4 linked regions of the Homo sapiens genome follow. The protein of the gene in region 1 purifies or fractionates together with the protein of each later gene. This does not show direct contact. Each region holds a gene or a part of one and is shown on either strand. Other genes may lie near its edges.

Region 1 (3,500 bases):
CTCGCTCTCTCTCTCGCTCTCTCTCTCGCTCGCTTTTTTTTTTTTTTTTTGTCTTTTCAACTTTTCATAGAAGTTGGTTGTAACTTGTAAACATGTTTTTAAATTAAGAATTAAGATAAAGTGTAGTACCCGTTCCGTTACAAAGTGCCAAGACTTCTAATGTGGTTGGTTGCCTTTTTTTTTTTCCTTCCTTTCATTTTGTAAAACCTTTTTTTTTTCTAGTTTGTTTTATTGCTTTTGTGACATTGGAATTTGTGGATTTTCTCTCTCTCCCCCCATCCCTGCCATCACCAGACCCTGGGGTTCCTCTGATCGTGACTCTGTTTATCCCACACTGTTGCCTGCTCCTCTGAGGAAAAGTATATTATTTATATATATATATATATCTATATATAAATTTTGTTTTTAAGGAGGAAAGAGAAAAAAAAATCTAAAAAGTGCTTTAAAAATTTGGGAGAGGGGGCTCGGGGGAGAGGACGAAGACAGAAGTTTTGAATCTCCAAACGTGGGGGTCTAGGTGGACCGGGCGGGGGTGGGGGGGCGCCCTGAGGGGTGGTCCCTGGGGGTCCCGCCGGTTGTAAGTGCCGTGAAGGAAGGCGGCAGGAGCACCCCCAGGAGCCATCCTGGCGCCCCACCGGGAACCCCAGTCCGATCTCCTTTCTCCAGGCCTAGAAATAAATAGGTTTGTGTCTCAGTGGCCAGGAGACGTGGGGTGGGCGACGGGGGGAGGCCGCAGGCAGGGTTGGAGGCGGGGAGGCCACTGGGGAGATGGAGAGGGAGACCCCTCCCTTAGTAAGTGCCCTGAGGAAGGAGGGTGCGGGTCGGGGGACGGGGGCCCATTTTAACGTCCGCTCAGAGCAGACAGAAATCATTTAAGGTCTTGTCTGAAAGACTCATAGAAACCAGCGAGGGGAGGAAATTAAAAGCCCACCCCAGTCCCCCCCCAGCGCCCCCACGTCTACCCTCCCCCCAGCCCAGGGCCTCGGATCGGGCCCCAGGCCCCATGCCGGGTGCCCAGGGGGCTGTGCGGGGTCTCGGATTCCTTGTGTCCTACAAAAAACCCCAAACCAAGCCCCGAAACCCAGCGATGGGGTGGTGGGGGGAAGGGGAGCCAGGGAGGGCCGGGGCCCCTGCGGAGGGAGAAAAACGTCAGAAAGGAGGGAAATCTGAGAAAGCGCTACCCTAGATTCTGTGACGCGTCATATATATATATCTGTATATATATATATAGATATAGATATCTGTATATAGATAGATTTTCTTTTTTTGTGTTTTTGGGGGGGTGGTGGGTGATTTTTTTTCTCTCTCTCTGTCTCTCTCTTTCTCGGGTTTCTGTTTTCTCTTTTTGGTTTTTAGGCGAGTCCGGCTGTGAAGTTACCGTCGGTGGCGGCCCCGGGGCCACCTCCGCTGTCACCTCCTCCACCGGCGCCCGCTACATTCAACCGGCCCAAGCCGTCGGGGCTGGCCACGTCCTCGTCCTCGTCCTCGTCCTTAAAGTGCTTCTCCTGGCCGTTGCGCCGGGCGTCGGGGGAGCTGGGCTGGGCGGGGGCGCCGGGGGTCGCGGTGGCCCCCGGGCTGGGGTCGGGCGCCCCGCCCCGGACGCGGGGCTTGCGGCCGCGGCGCGAGGGGACGCCGTTGCAGCCGTCTTTCTTGAGGTGTCTGTGCAGGTGGTCGGAGCGGACGAAGGTCTTGCAGCAGCTGTCGCACTGGTAGGGGCGCAGGCCCGTGTGCACGCGCATGTGGTTCTTCAGGTCGTAGTTGTGGGCAAAGGCGGCGCCGCACTGCTGGCACAGGTACGGCTTCTCGCCCGTGTGCTTCCGCATGTGCACCTTCAGCTTGTCCTGCCTGTGGACGGGGCACGGGGCGGGCACGGTCAGTGGGGCCGGGGACCCCCGATCCCCGCCCAGGGACCCTCACGGACACGGCAGGCCCTGGATCATCACCCTTGCAGAACACGGACCGTGCACCAGAGGTTTCGGTGCCCCGATGGGGACGGTCCCTCGAAAAACGAGACGAGTGGGGGCGATTTCGCATTCTGAACATCTAAAGAGGGCCTCGGACCCTGAGTGCTGTGTGGCCTTGGGAAAACGCTATGCCTCTCTGAACCCCGTTTCCTTTCCTTTTTTAACTTTTTAAGAGACAAAGTCTAGGCCAGGCGCGGAGGCTCAGGCCTGAAATCCCAGCACTTTGGGAGGCCGAGGCGGGCGGATCACTTGAGGCCAGGAGTTCGAGACCAGCCTGATCGACACGGTGAAACCCTGTCTCTACTAAAAAAACAAAAAACAAAAAAACAAAAAACAAAAATCAGCCGGGCATGGTAGCAGGCGCCCGTAATGCCAGCTATTAGGAAGGCTGAGGCAGGAGGATCACTTGTATCTGGGAGGTGGAGGTTGCAGTGAAACTCCGTCTCAAAAAAAAAAATTTCACTTTTTAAGAGCGAAACTCCGTCTCAAAAAACAAATCTGCCAGGCGTGGTGGCGCAGGCCTATAATCCCAGCTACTTGGGAGGTGGAGGTTGCAGTGAGCCCAGATCACGCCACTGCCCTCCAACCTCGGTGACAGAATGAGACTGTCTCCAAAAAAAAAAAAAAAGAGAGGCAGGGTCTGGCTTTGTCCCCCAGGCTGGAGGGCAGTGGCGTGATCACGGTTCCCTGCAGCCTCGAACTCCTGGGCTCAAGCCATCGTCCTGCCTCATCCTCCAGAGTAGCACACGCACCACCACACCCTATTAAATAGCTATTAAACTATATGTGTGTGTGTGTGTGTGTGTATATATATATATATATATATATATATATATATATATATATGTAAGTTTGAGAGATGGGGGTTGAGCTACGTTACCCAGGCTAATCTCAAACTCCTGGGCTCAAGTGATCCTCTTGCCTCGGCCTCTCAAAGCTCTAGGATTACAGGTGTGAGCCACTGCGCCCGCCATGAACCCCTTTCCCTACCACAGAAGGAGACAGTGGGCTTCTGCCACTCCATCCTGCCCCTACCCCTGGGGTAGGATGAGGCCAGCCAGTGCCTGGTGCCTTCATTCATGCCACAGACCTTTGCCGAGCGCCCGCTGAGGGCCAGGCCCTGTTCCAGGTGCTGAAAATACCGCAAGGAACAAGACAGGCAAACATCCCTGCCCTCTCGAGGCTGGCGGCGGCCGAGGTGTTTGGTGACAGATAGGGTGACCAACTGTTCTGGTTTTAGCACTGAAAGTCCTGCATCCTGGGAAACCCCTCTGTCCGGGACAAAGTGGGGCAGTTGGTCACCCTAGTAACCAAGTCCCCACCCCACGACACCCAGGACTGCCCACTCTCCCCTCACTTCAGCGTCACTCCCCTATCTGGGCTCCACCCTGACGTGCAAAGGTGCAAAGCACAAGCTACGCTGGGGCCTTTGCATGTGCTGCTCCCGCAGTCCGGGGTACTTTCTTTTTTCCTCCTGGATCTTCACAGTCAAATTTGGGCTCAAATGTCACCTCCTTCCCCAGCCCTGTCTCCATC
Region 2 (3,500 bases), on another chromosome or scaffold:
ACCATGGGAGAGGGTGATCAGTTTTTGGCAGAACAAAATGGCATCACCACCTTAGTACTGAAATTAGTAGGAGTAATAGAACAATTTCTCCTCAAATATAATGGCTAGGATCATACCTAAAACCCACTGGCCTCTACCATGAGTGAAAGAAAAGGAGACAATAGGCTTGATTGTACAATCCCCTCAGTATACGTGTGTCAGGTACACAGAGAAAAGACTGCTAACCAGTAACGTTTCAATACTAAGAGAAGCTATTAATGTGGCAAACAACCAAGAGGTAATATCTAGTTTCTAGGTTTAAAAAAAAACAATATATATATATATTTATAATAAAGTTTTAAATACAAAGTGCTTTTTATATATCGAGAATGATACAGTGTTGTGAATAAATCCCTGTTTGTAATCTTGCTTACAAGAGTTAACTGGTAAATAAGTATTTTCTTTCCTCTTTCCAGACAATGTTCAACAAGTAAACACCCTGGTGTTAGGAGCTTGAGAATCAGAGGCCATTGCCAGCAATGTCTATTACATTACAGCAAAGCCAAACTTTTCAAATAAAATTTCACCCCAAATCCAAGAAAAATTATTTTTATTTTAAGAAAAAAAAGTTTCTATTTAGAAGTAAATAACCCAGTACGATTGTGGAAAAGATGACATGGTAGTAGCACCCTGTCCTACCCTGGTGATAACCTCAGGTATGTTACACAGCTTAAAAGCATGTGCAATATTACCTTTCTTTTTAACCTAAATCATCTAACTGATGGGCAGAAAAGGTCTCAGAATAGTTGCTTTTCTTGTTTGTTTTTTTAATTTTTTTTTTCTGGTCGGCGTAGCTTTGTGGACTTTTAAGTTTAAGCAGCTTTATCTATAATGTGGGAGCATGGTTCTGTAGACTACCTTGCTAAACTTAGGACTCCTTTTACAAACACATTCCAGTGCTCATAAAGAACTGGTAGTATTAGCTCAGTGTACCCTCTAAAGAGTATCTCCCCCACCTTGAAAGAGTGTATTCTCAAGATTCTTCTTGGGCAGTTTTGTCCCCCTTAAGTATAACCACTCATAGAATCCTGCCTATCTGCCCTCTCACTCTGGTTGGTGGAGTGTCACCTTAGCACTCTATGAACTACTCAAGTTCACAGGGAACTCTCAGCCACAACTTGTGGCTCCTTCTCACTAAGTGTGGTCATGGACCACTCTCTTTGTAAAGCACCATAATCTAAGACAGAGCAGGGGCTGTGGCAGCCCGTGGTACCGTGGTCAGTCACAGCAGCTTGGTGTCTACCAGCCACAGAGAAGACCCCACTGTATGGAGGCTACAATTAACCAAACAGGATTTGGGAAAGCAAACCAATGAGAAATACCTATCTCTGGCACCCTAGAGAATTACAATTAGATAAAATTGTCCAAACTCAATGTTAGAACTAAAATACAAAACACTGCCTTATCAAGAGTCTGAAACACCTTGTGACAGTAGTGGCATCTTACAGAAACTGACAAGGGCACTATGTCAGCCTTGTACCGTAAATTATCTGTTTCATATTTAGAAAGTCACTCTCTTAGCATCTCCATAGTTTTAGTTAAAATATCCTTTAGAAAGACTAAAACCAGACAACAGAGCTCTGTTAACCAATTTCTCATCCTAGGAATCACATTATTTCTAGCTTTTATATAAGTAGCACTTCCTTCAGTGAAATAGCTACCAAAACAAATCCACATTACCTAAGTATCTATAGCAAGAGCAAAATAAAATTTCAGCATGACCTTGTAATAATGAGTGATCCAAAGCTGCTGCCACCCAAAATGGAACTGGTGGGTGGAGTCCAGTTCCAAGTGCAGGTGTCTCTGTCCACCTGTTTCGATCACAACCAGTCAGAAGGTTTCCCTTGCCAGCTGGGCGGTGGGTTAACTCACCCCATTACCCATTCCAGGCCAGGACTGGAACACACAAATTTGAGGAATTAGATTTTTTTAATTGGCCTACTTAGAGCTGGTCTTTCAGAAATATCTTCCTTTTTTTTTTTAAGCTTCTCTCATAATAGCAAGTAGCACGCATCATCTGTGCCCAGATTTGCATTAATTACCATAGTTTATTTTTGTGCATGCCACTCAAGGGCCAGATCCTATTTTTAGTTAGCCTCAGTTGTATTCTGCTCAGCCTTTGCAGCTTCGTAGGACTTAGTACAAGAAGTCACATGCCGGTGGAAACTGTCCCTCCACATAAACCTCTTTGCACAGATATTACACTCATACGGCTTTATGCCTGTGTGAATTTTCATGTGGCCCACGAGATGGTGCTTCATTTTGAATTTCTTACCGCAGACCCCACAGCCGTAAGGCCGAAGACCGAGGTGCATGCTCATGTGCCGATCTCTCTGACTCTTGTGAGTGAAACTTTTCCCACACTGACAAGGATACAGCTTGTCAGTGGCTGAGAATCCTAAGTGGGAAGCTTCTTCTTTAATCCCTGTTACCATTTCAATATTCTCACTGTAACCTGCTGCGAGGGCAGCCTCCTGTCTGTGCCCAATTAGATTCCCATCTGACCTCTCTCCGGAAAACTCTTCCATGGAAGAGCCATAGAAATCCACCTGCTCATCATAATTGCTTTCATCAGCCTGTTCATCAAACTCAGCTTCCACTTTCTTCTCCCCGATGTGGAAGTCCTCCTCCACTCCCGAAGGCTGCACCGTGTGCTCTGTCTGCACGGTGTTGATGGACTCTGTGACCTGGTGCTCGTCGTAGGTCGCGTGCACATCCATGCCCTCGCAAGCCTGTTCTAAGCGCTCGGGCTTCACGTGGATCCAGCGTTTGTGAGCCATGATGCTGGGCTTGCTGTACATGGGCCGGGTGTAGTGGAACTCGGCGCTGTCGCTGGCGCCCTCCTCCCCATCCTGGCTTGCCATTTCCGTGCTCAGGCGGTCATGCTCTGTGGACGAGTTGCTGGGCAGGTATTCGTGCTCGGTGAGCTGGGATGACAGCTCGTCTTTGGTGCTCTCCTCTTCATTTTCACCATCTCTCAGTTCTTGGGCTTTGGGAAAATCAGTATGACCCCCAGAGCCCAGCTCAAAGCTCTCTACCAGGCCATTATAACTACTGCTGCTTGGTGACTGGTGGTCACTGCCATGATTTAGCTTCTGACAAAGGACTGTAGGGTTTCCCTCTAAAACTTCAGTGCATTTGTCTACCACATGCCACATCTGGAGGAAGCTTGCCGCTGTCAAGTAACTAACAATTTCTGGAGCGGGCATTACTAGACGTCCTGTATAACTAGATAGGAGAATGTTCTCAAACACTCTTGGGTTCATCACATCAGGCAAAACAATTCTCCTGCTGTTTTTCAGGAGTACCTGGTCACAAAAGTAGGGTGAACTGGCAGCAAGAACGGCTTTGTGTGCCCGGAAAATGTGGCCTTGGACAACAATGGAGACGTCACATAATTGTCCTTGCTGGCGCTGCTGGTTCAGTTTCTGTAGAATGGTGCTGGAAAAATCAGGAAATTC
Region 3 (3,755 bases), on another chromosome or scaffold:
CAGGGCAGCAGGGCTGTCATCCCAGCAGCCGTGTCTACTCTGGCAGGAGTCTTCCGGAGAGTTCCAACCTAGGTCCCAGCGAGGACTGTGGCTTGGCCTGGAGGAGAAGCTGGCTATCAGATTTTTGAACCCACCTCCGCCCCACCCACCCCTTGGTGGTTTTAACATGCAGCTAGGATTGCAATCAAGAGGACAAGTAACTAAGATTCATGTTTTACTTTCAAAGGAGAGCAGGAGCCTGGGGTCGAGGCCCAGGGTCCCGGCCTGCTGCTGTGGATGGAAACTGACACATGGCAGATATGGAATGGTGAGTAAACGTGGCCTTCCCCTTGGCCTGTGTGAACTCCTGGCTTTGTTCTCCTTGTATGACGTGTGCATAGTTCAGTGATCCCTATAAAAATATTTTGCTAATCTTTGCCCACAAAACTGAGAAAACCTTTAGTAGCCACCCATAGATTGAGGTACTAATCTCCTACTTAAAAAACTAAAACAGAGGACTGTTGGAGTCATAGGCAAATGTTTAATTAATTCTGCTCATATGCACATCTGAAAGCATGAGACACACTCCACAGACAGCACGCACTGGAGCAGGTGGGGCAGATGGGCACTCGCCGATTAGGTATTAATGTCAATAATACGTGCATAAAGTGCTGATAAAATAACTTAAGTGTTACAAAAACAGACAGTCCACGGTGGCTGCAGGCACATGCAGGCGGGACTGGGTCAGACACTCCAGGGCTGCACATGTTCCAGCTGGCCTGAGTCCGACACGTCATAGCTGGCCTTGTACTTGGCCAGGATTTTCATGAGGGGCCGTAGCTTGAGCCACCACTGTTCTTTGGGAATCCTGTGCCTGTGGAGGTAAGAGGAGACAGCAGTGAGGCCTGCAGTCACTGGCGGGAGATGCCTCCGCCTGGCCAGCACAGCGAGCGGTCTTGCCAGAAACACAGGGTTTGTAGGGTCGGCTGAATCAACTAGATGATAAAGCCAATTTCAGGATCAAATGAAACCATTGTTTAAAATTATTCCCGAAGACCCAGTGGTGGAGTCTCGCTCTGTCGCCAGGCTTGAGTACAGTGGTGCAATCTCAGCTCACTGCAACCTCTGCCTCCCGGGTTCAAGCGATTTCTCCTGCCTCAGCCTCCTGAGTAGCTGGGACTACAGGTGTGCATCACCATGCCTGGCTCATTTTTGTATTTTTAGTAGAGATGGGGTTTCACCATATGAGCCAGGTTGGTCTCGATCTCTTGACCTTGTGATCCACCTGTCTCGGCCTCCCACAGTGCTGGGATTATAGGCATGAGCCACCGCGCCCAGCCAAGACCTAGTATTTTTTTAACTGAGCTTCAGAAAAGCCAGTTCCTCAAACCCCTGAATGAGTTGCCGACAGCAACAGCAATGGCCATTCCCCTGTCCCGTACTCACATTGGGGTCTTATTGCCTCAGGGAACCCAGCCAACTTACTCAAAATCCGTTTGCTTCTTCAGCTCTGCCACAGGTTGAAAAATAACGTTTCTTTTGCTTATTCCCAGCACACAAATGGAATCATCGGTGGTAAATTTTTTTCCTATAAAAGATTTTAAAAAAGATTAATAACACCCTGTCAACATGGGCAGGTGGGGGAGCAGAATCACGGGGCGAGATGAGAACTGAGATTCCTCAGAACCATGCTGAACCCGGCCTGGAAGCCCAGTGAGACTGAGAACAGCCGCGCAGTGGGGCCAGCACCTGGCCTCGTGCAGCTCTGCTCCTGTGGGACTGCCCCGAGGGCTTCCTGGAAAGCAGCTTTTGTTTTTTCCTCCCAGTGGAGAGAATTTTTCACTAAATAGTGGAATAGGGAAATTAGCTTAAATTACAGGACACTAATTTATGCTCACACATACACACACTGAGAGGCAAAAAGCATCCATAGCTAAATTAGCAAAAGAAAATCGCTGTAGAAAGAATCAAAGCCAAAGTCAGTTCTTCAAAAAGACAAACCCATTGAAACTATTCACATCACTGGTTTTTATAGACTGTCATTTTTCTAAGTTGGACACTGGCAGTGATAGTGGTTTGCCGGAATAAAAGCACACATCTGCTATGACTGATTAAGAAAGCTGAGGGGGGTGGGGGTGAGAAAGATGCTGGCACAAAGAGCCACTCAGGAATGAGTGGGGAACAGCCATGTTGGAGCCATTAACAAGAGTATTATAAAAAAGTCATGTTTCTTGAAACTTCAGTTTAAAGATTTCTTAGAATATGTAACTTACAGAACTGATTTAAGGAAGAACATGCACAGTTCTACGAACATGCAGTTCTACAAACATGAACAATTCATTCAGCAGTCAGATCTTCCTCAAAACTGGAAGTTTTGATGGATAGTCACAAGGAGGTTGTCCTAGCAAACATTCAAAAAATAGAAGGCCCCACTTAAACTGTGAGGGGAAATTGCTGGCCAACGTTCAGGATCTCTAGAGCAAAAAGCCTGCACAAAAGAACTGCAGACTGCATCTAGCAGTGATAAAAGAGAACATGTCATACCCAAGCTGATCTTATCCCAGGAATCCAAGGTTGGTTAAATAGCAACACTCAGAGATCAGGAGTAAAACATCACGTGCAGCTCAGTACTGAACTGAAGAAGGAACCAGCACCCTACTTCTCCCCGATAGGACAGCATTTTCACCAAGGCAGGACGGCCTGCATCACGAGGCTGTGGCCTCCCTCCCCAGACCCCTTACCTCTGCCCCGGGCCTCCTTGAGTTTTGCAGTGATCCACTCCATAGCTCTGGCAGAGATTTTGGTTCCAAAGTTTCTATCAAATGGAGAGGGTGCCCCACCCTGTTGGTGGTTAGAGTTATATGAAATACCAGTTATACAGTAACACTTTGCTGTTAAATAGAAATGACAATTTCTATTTTGCAGAATTCATGTTTTTATTTCTAGGTCCTTATAGTTGGAACAGAACAAAACCTGTGATTCCCGTAGCCTGAACTTGGCCTGTTAAGAAAAAGTATCAAGTGTTCCCCCCGCTCAGTAAGATGAGGATTTTAATAAACCGAACAAGTCAACTAACAATCTTCATTATTTTAAAATCTTAAATCAGGATTTCATGAACTCATCTGAGCTGGGGATGGGTCACAGCTTTAATCTGATAACCGTTGTGGATTCTTTAAGAAGATCACACATATGCCTACTATTTCATCATCATTGCAGGGGATTCATGGGCTCTGGCTTAAAAGTATAAGAATAGGAGGTGGTGAGGAAGGAGTGTGTGCAAGTTAGGAGGCCTGGACCCTGTGTCCCAGGCTCAGCTCATAACACGTGTGTGCCTGTGTGCAGCTCATTCCAGGTCATTCTGACTTGGGGTGTCAAGTATACTACATGTCTGATAATCCATTTTAAATCTTAGGGAAGCTCCAGTTTTTAACTTGATGAAGTGTTTAATTTGAATAAGCATTTCCAAGTAATGGGGGTATCACTGTTTTCATGAAAGCTGACAGTTCCCTTAAAATCCCCATTACTCAAACCTCACCAACAAAAGAATCCTAAAGCTGGTGATGTTTGGCATCACTTAAAAGTTCAGATGTTTTGGCTGGGCACAGTGGCTCAGGCCTGTATTCCCACCACTTTGGGAGGCTGAGGTGGGTGAATCATCTGAGGTCAGGAGTTTGAGACCAGCCTGGCCAACGTGGTGAAACCCCATCTCTACTAAAAATACAAAAATTAGCTGGGTGTGGTGGTGGGTGCCTATACTGCCATCTCCTCGGGAGGCT
Region 4 (3,500 bases), on another chromosome or scaffold:
CCCCAGCTCCAGTGGCAGGACCCAAGCAAAACCCCTCACTAGCTAACAACAGTCAGGCTGGCTCTCTAAAGCAGTCTTTCTACCAAAGTCCAAAAGTAAGGGCTGAAAGGAAACTAGGACTCCACCCTTTACACTGGGACTTGAGGTCTGGGTCACGAACTGAGTCACAGCAACAGCCAACTGAAAACCACATCACCTGTAAGCGAGGCGAGCCCGTCCCGATCACCCAAGTCAGAAGACGCAGCATGGCCACGCGAGGCAGCAACTCCGGGCCATTCTAGGAGAGAACGGCAGGTAAGTCGAGATGAGGCTGTGGGGAGGTCTGTAACCCAGGCGGCCAACGGCAGGGCATCCTCTCACCCACGGGGGAACATTCTGGATCATACAACCGGCCCCACCACAGAAACCTCATTAAGTTTACAACTAGGTCCACAGGTGCTAACCCCAGTCAACCATGATCCTCAGGAACTAAAAACTAAATTCTGAAACTTGCTTGAAATTCACACTATGAAATCCAGAAAGACCGTAAATATATGAAGAGACACTCAACTTTAAATGAAATGCAAAATAAAATGAGATTATCATTCTTTCACTCATCACTGACGATATTAATACTATCTGAGGTTGCATTAAGGCTTTGAGAAAAGAAAACTCTTGGTGAGAGTATAGCTCAGAATATGCCATATAATCTAGTAATTCCATGTCCAATGAACCTGTCCTAAAGAAATGCTCACACTGGTTAAGTAAGGGGCATATACATACAAGAGGGCACATCACAGTGCTGTTCAAAACAGGAAAAAGTTAGAAACAACCTTAAGAACTCATCAACAGGTAAAGAGTTAAGTAAAACATGGTACATCCATAGCACAGAATCTCATGCAGCCAACAAAGTCAATCAGGTGAACTGACATGTACTGGCATGGCAGGAGAGCCAGAGTCTACAATCACATGAAAGAAGCAGTCTGACCCGTTTTTGCCTTAAAAAACCCACAACACTGTGTGAGGCTGCTGTTGGTATAAACATACACTCTCTATTTCCCCACCAGGAACTGTTCATGAGACAAAACGTGTCCACAGGCCCTGCCTCCCTGATCCCCTTTAAACCAAGAGGAGAGCAGAGCTTCCCTGCCAACCTCGTCCACCCGCCCGGGTGGGGTGTTGGGGGAGGCCCTCAGCTGGGCTTGGACAGTGAGGATCTGAAGAATCTGGGCCATCCACTCCTCCTCCTCCTCACTGTGGTGGGGCATCTCCGTCAGCACCATCTTCAGAAACGGGAAGACTAAGGAGAAGGCTGGCGCGGACAAGGGCGCAGCACCTGTGAGAGCGAGAAGCAGATAAGATTCTGCAGGCAGGGCAGGGACCCGGGCCACTGCTGCCTATTTCTATCCTCAGGGAAAGTAGGGAACGGATGGACCAGAGGCCCGTTCTGACACCTGGAAGCACATGGCACGAGGACAGAGACAGCAGCTGGTAGTCCAGTTCTAAAACCAATTCTGCTTCTACTGCCAAACACTGCCCAGTTCCAGGATGTGAGAGTTAAAACAGAGATGGGGACACCAGTGACAAAAAGTAAACCCTCAACTGGGCTCACTGCAATTCACAGACTACGAAGGTTCAATTCAGAAATCCTCCATATGGTCCAATCCCCCAGGCTCAGGAGGCCCTGGGTGACGCTGTGCCTTGAGCAGCATTCCTGGCACCAGCTCACACCGCCTGGTGCCCCTGATCCCGTCCCAGCCCTTACCTGGCTCCCCCTTGCCCACCCTGCTGGTGATGGTGTGGGTGTGCAGCAGCATCACCGCCCTCTTCACAGCCACCGACAGCTCTTCCTGGCACCAGGACTTATCCAGGACACACTCTGGCTTCAGCAGGCGCAGGGTCACGTGGCTCACCAAAGTGCCTGTGTTGAAGAGGAGAGACCCAGCAGGAGATGACACACAGAGATGTGGAATCCAGCCCAGGCTAAAACAGGGGACCCAGTGCCTCATCCTTCTGACTTAAAAAAATATTTCTGCGGCTGGGCGCGGTGGCTGATGCCTGTAATCCCAGCACTTTGGGAGGCCGAGGCGGGCGGATCATGAGGTCAGGAGATTGAGACCATCCTGGCTAACACGGTGAAACCCCATCTCTACTAAAAATACAAAAAATTAGCTGGGCGTGGTGACGGGCGCCTGTAGTCCCAGCTACTCAGGAGGCTCAAGAAGGAGAATGGCATGAACCCGGGAAGCGGAGCTGGCAGTGAGCCAAGATGGCGCCACTGCACTCCAGCCTGGGTGACAGAGTAAGACTCCGTCTCAAAAAAAAAAAAAAAAATCTTTCTGCTTCGCCAAAATGTCCCCAGCCTAATTTCTCACTTGATCTTTGTGACAGCCTCAGAGGGCAGGTAGGCAGAGAGTTGCCCTTTGGACATTTAAGAAATGAGTACGCTGACAGGAGACAAGGGCCACCAAAGAGTCATTCAGCCAAGAGTACAGCTCTATCTGTGCAGCATCTCCACCTCTACGCAACAAGCCCAGACAGCCAGGTGACACTTCTGGCAGGTTTCATATGCACCAGCTGACTTTTCCACTCAGAACAGTTCCCAGATTCTAGCCTCACCCGTGGGAACATCACCGTTAGGCCAGGATAGAAGTCTGCTGAAGGCCACTAAACAACCCACAGAAGCAAGGCCACCAGAACTGCCAGCCACCCTACCTGGTGTTTGTTTCTCCAGAGCTAAGAGGAAGCTAAAGGTCTCAAGGGCCTCTGCTCACTGCTGTCATGTGGCTGTTCAGGAGATCTGGGCTGGGCTGAGCCACCAAACCATCCTCACTGCCACTGAACTTCTGACTTCTTAGTTTTAAAACTGGTATACAAAGATCGAACACTGACTAGCATCTAAAACCTACTCCTCAGAGGGAGGGCACAGATGTGAAGTGGGAGAGAAGAGGAGGCACTACGTCTCTCCTAAGCATATCCAGCTTGAGTCTCCAAGGCTGCTTCCACAAGAAAACAAAACTCAGCAGCTGAGGTCACCACCCACCTCCCCACAAGCACTCAGGGGCACACCCTGTCCAAGCACTCAGGGGCACCCCTGGGCCATCCCTGCAGCCAGCAAACAAGGACTAACCCAAAGCCTTGAGCCTAGAGGGCATGACACAGGCAGCCAAGGACAAGAAGGGGTTCTTGATCCTGGGAGCAGCCAGGGGAGACTTCAGCAAGGGCAGAAAAGAGTCGACCAAAACAGGGATGTACTGGGTCAGGCCGGACGGGTTCTTGGCCAGGATGATGTCCAGCAGTCCAAGCGCCGCCTCCAGCTCCCCATCCAGCTGCAAGCAGAGTTGTCCAGAAGGCAGGTCAGCAGGGCCCTGCTTGTGACAGCAAGCAGCAGGACCAAGCTGCCCAGCACTCTTCCGGCTTGAGCATGTGGCGGAGGTGGCCACTCACCTCCTGCAGCCGCCTCCGGACCTGCGCCTCCCTGTCTAGCTGGGCCTGCAGCATCTCCTTCTGCTTGCTGGTCA

Evidence for each region. The genes of interacting proteins can lie anywhere in the genome.
Region 2: the proteins of ZBTB7A (region 1) and ZBTB43 purify together in Homo sapiens (affinity purification with mass spectrometry, with the first as the bait; one large-scale study listed by BioGRID). This does not show direct contact.
Region 3: the proteins of ZBTB7A (region 1) and PFKP purify together in Homo sapiens (affinity purification with mass spectrometry, with the first as the bait; one large-scale study listed by BioGRID). This does not show direct contact.
Region 4: the proteins of ZBTB7A (region 1) and GCN1 purify together in Homo sapiens (affinity purification with mass spectrometry, with the first as the bait; one large-scale study listed by BioGRID). This does not show direct contact.

What each region holds. Positions count from the first base shown.
Region 1 is NC_000019.10:4,046,400-4,049,899, forward strand, and holds part of ZBTB7A (zinc finger and BTB domain-containing protein 7A), read right to left. Parts: intron 1,846-3,500; coding exon 1,353-1,845; 3' UTR 1-1,352. UniProt on the Homo sapiens protein: Transcription factor that represses the transcription of a wide range of genes involved in cell proliferation and differentiation.
Region 2 is NC_000009.12:126,832,540-126,836,039, reverse strand, and holds part of ZBTB43 (zinc finger and BTB domain-containing protein 43), read right to left. Parts: coding exon 2,127-3,500; 3' UTR 1-2,126. UniProt on the Homo sapiens protein: May be involved in transcriptional regulation.
Region 3 is NC_000010.11:3,133,548-3,137,302, reverse strand, and holds the end of PFKP (ATP-dependent 6-phosphofructokinase, platelet type), read right to left. Parts: intron 3,200-3,755; exon of another isoform or gene 3,005-3,199; intron 2,821-3,004; coding exon 2,721-2,820; intron 1,568-2,720; coding exon 1,465-1,567; intron 854-1,464; coding exon 724-853; 3' UTR 501-723; downstream 1-500. UniProt on the Homo sapiens protein: Catalyzes the phosphorylation of D-fructose 6-phosphate to fructose 1,6-bisphosphate by ATP, the first committing step of glycolysis.
Region 4 is NC_000012.12:120,156,716-120,160,215, forward strand, and holds part of GCN1 (stalled ribosome sensor GCN1), read right to left. Parts: coding exon 3,427-3,500; intron 3,309-3,426; coding exon 3,110-3,308; intron 1,901-3,109; coding exon 1,745-1,900; intron 1,316-1,744; coding exon 1,134-1,315; intron 278-1,133; coding exon 197-277; intron 1-196. UniProt on the Homo sapiens protein: Ribosome collision sensor that plays a key role in the RNF14-RNF25 translation quality control pathway, a pathway that takes place when a ribosome has stalled during translation, and which promotes ubiquitination and degradation of translation factors on stalled ribosomes.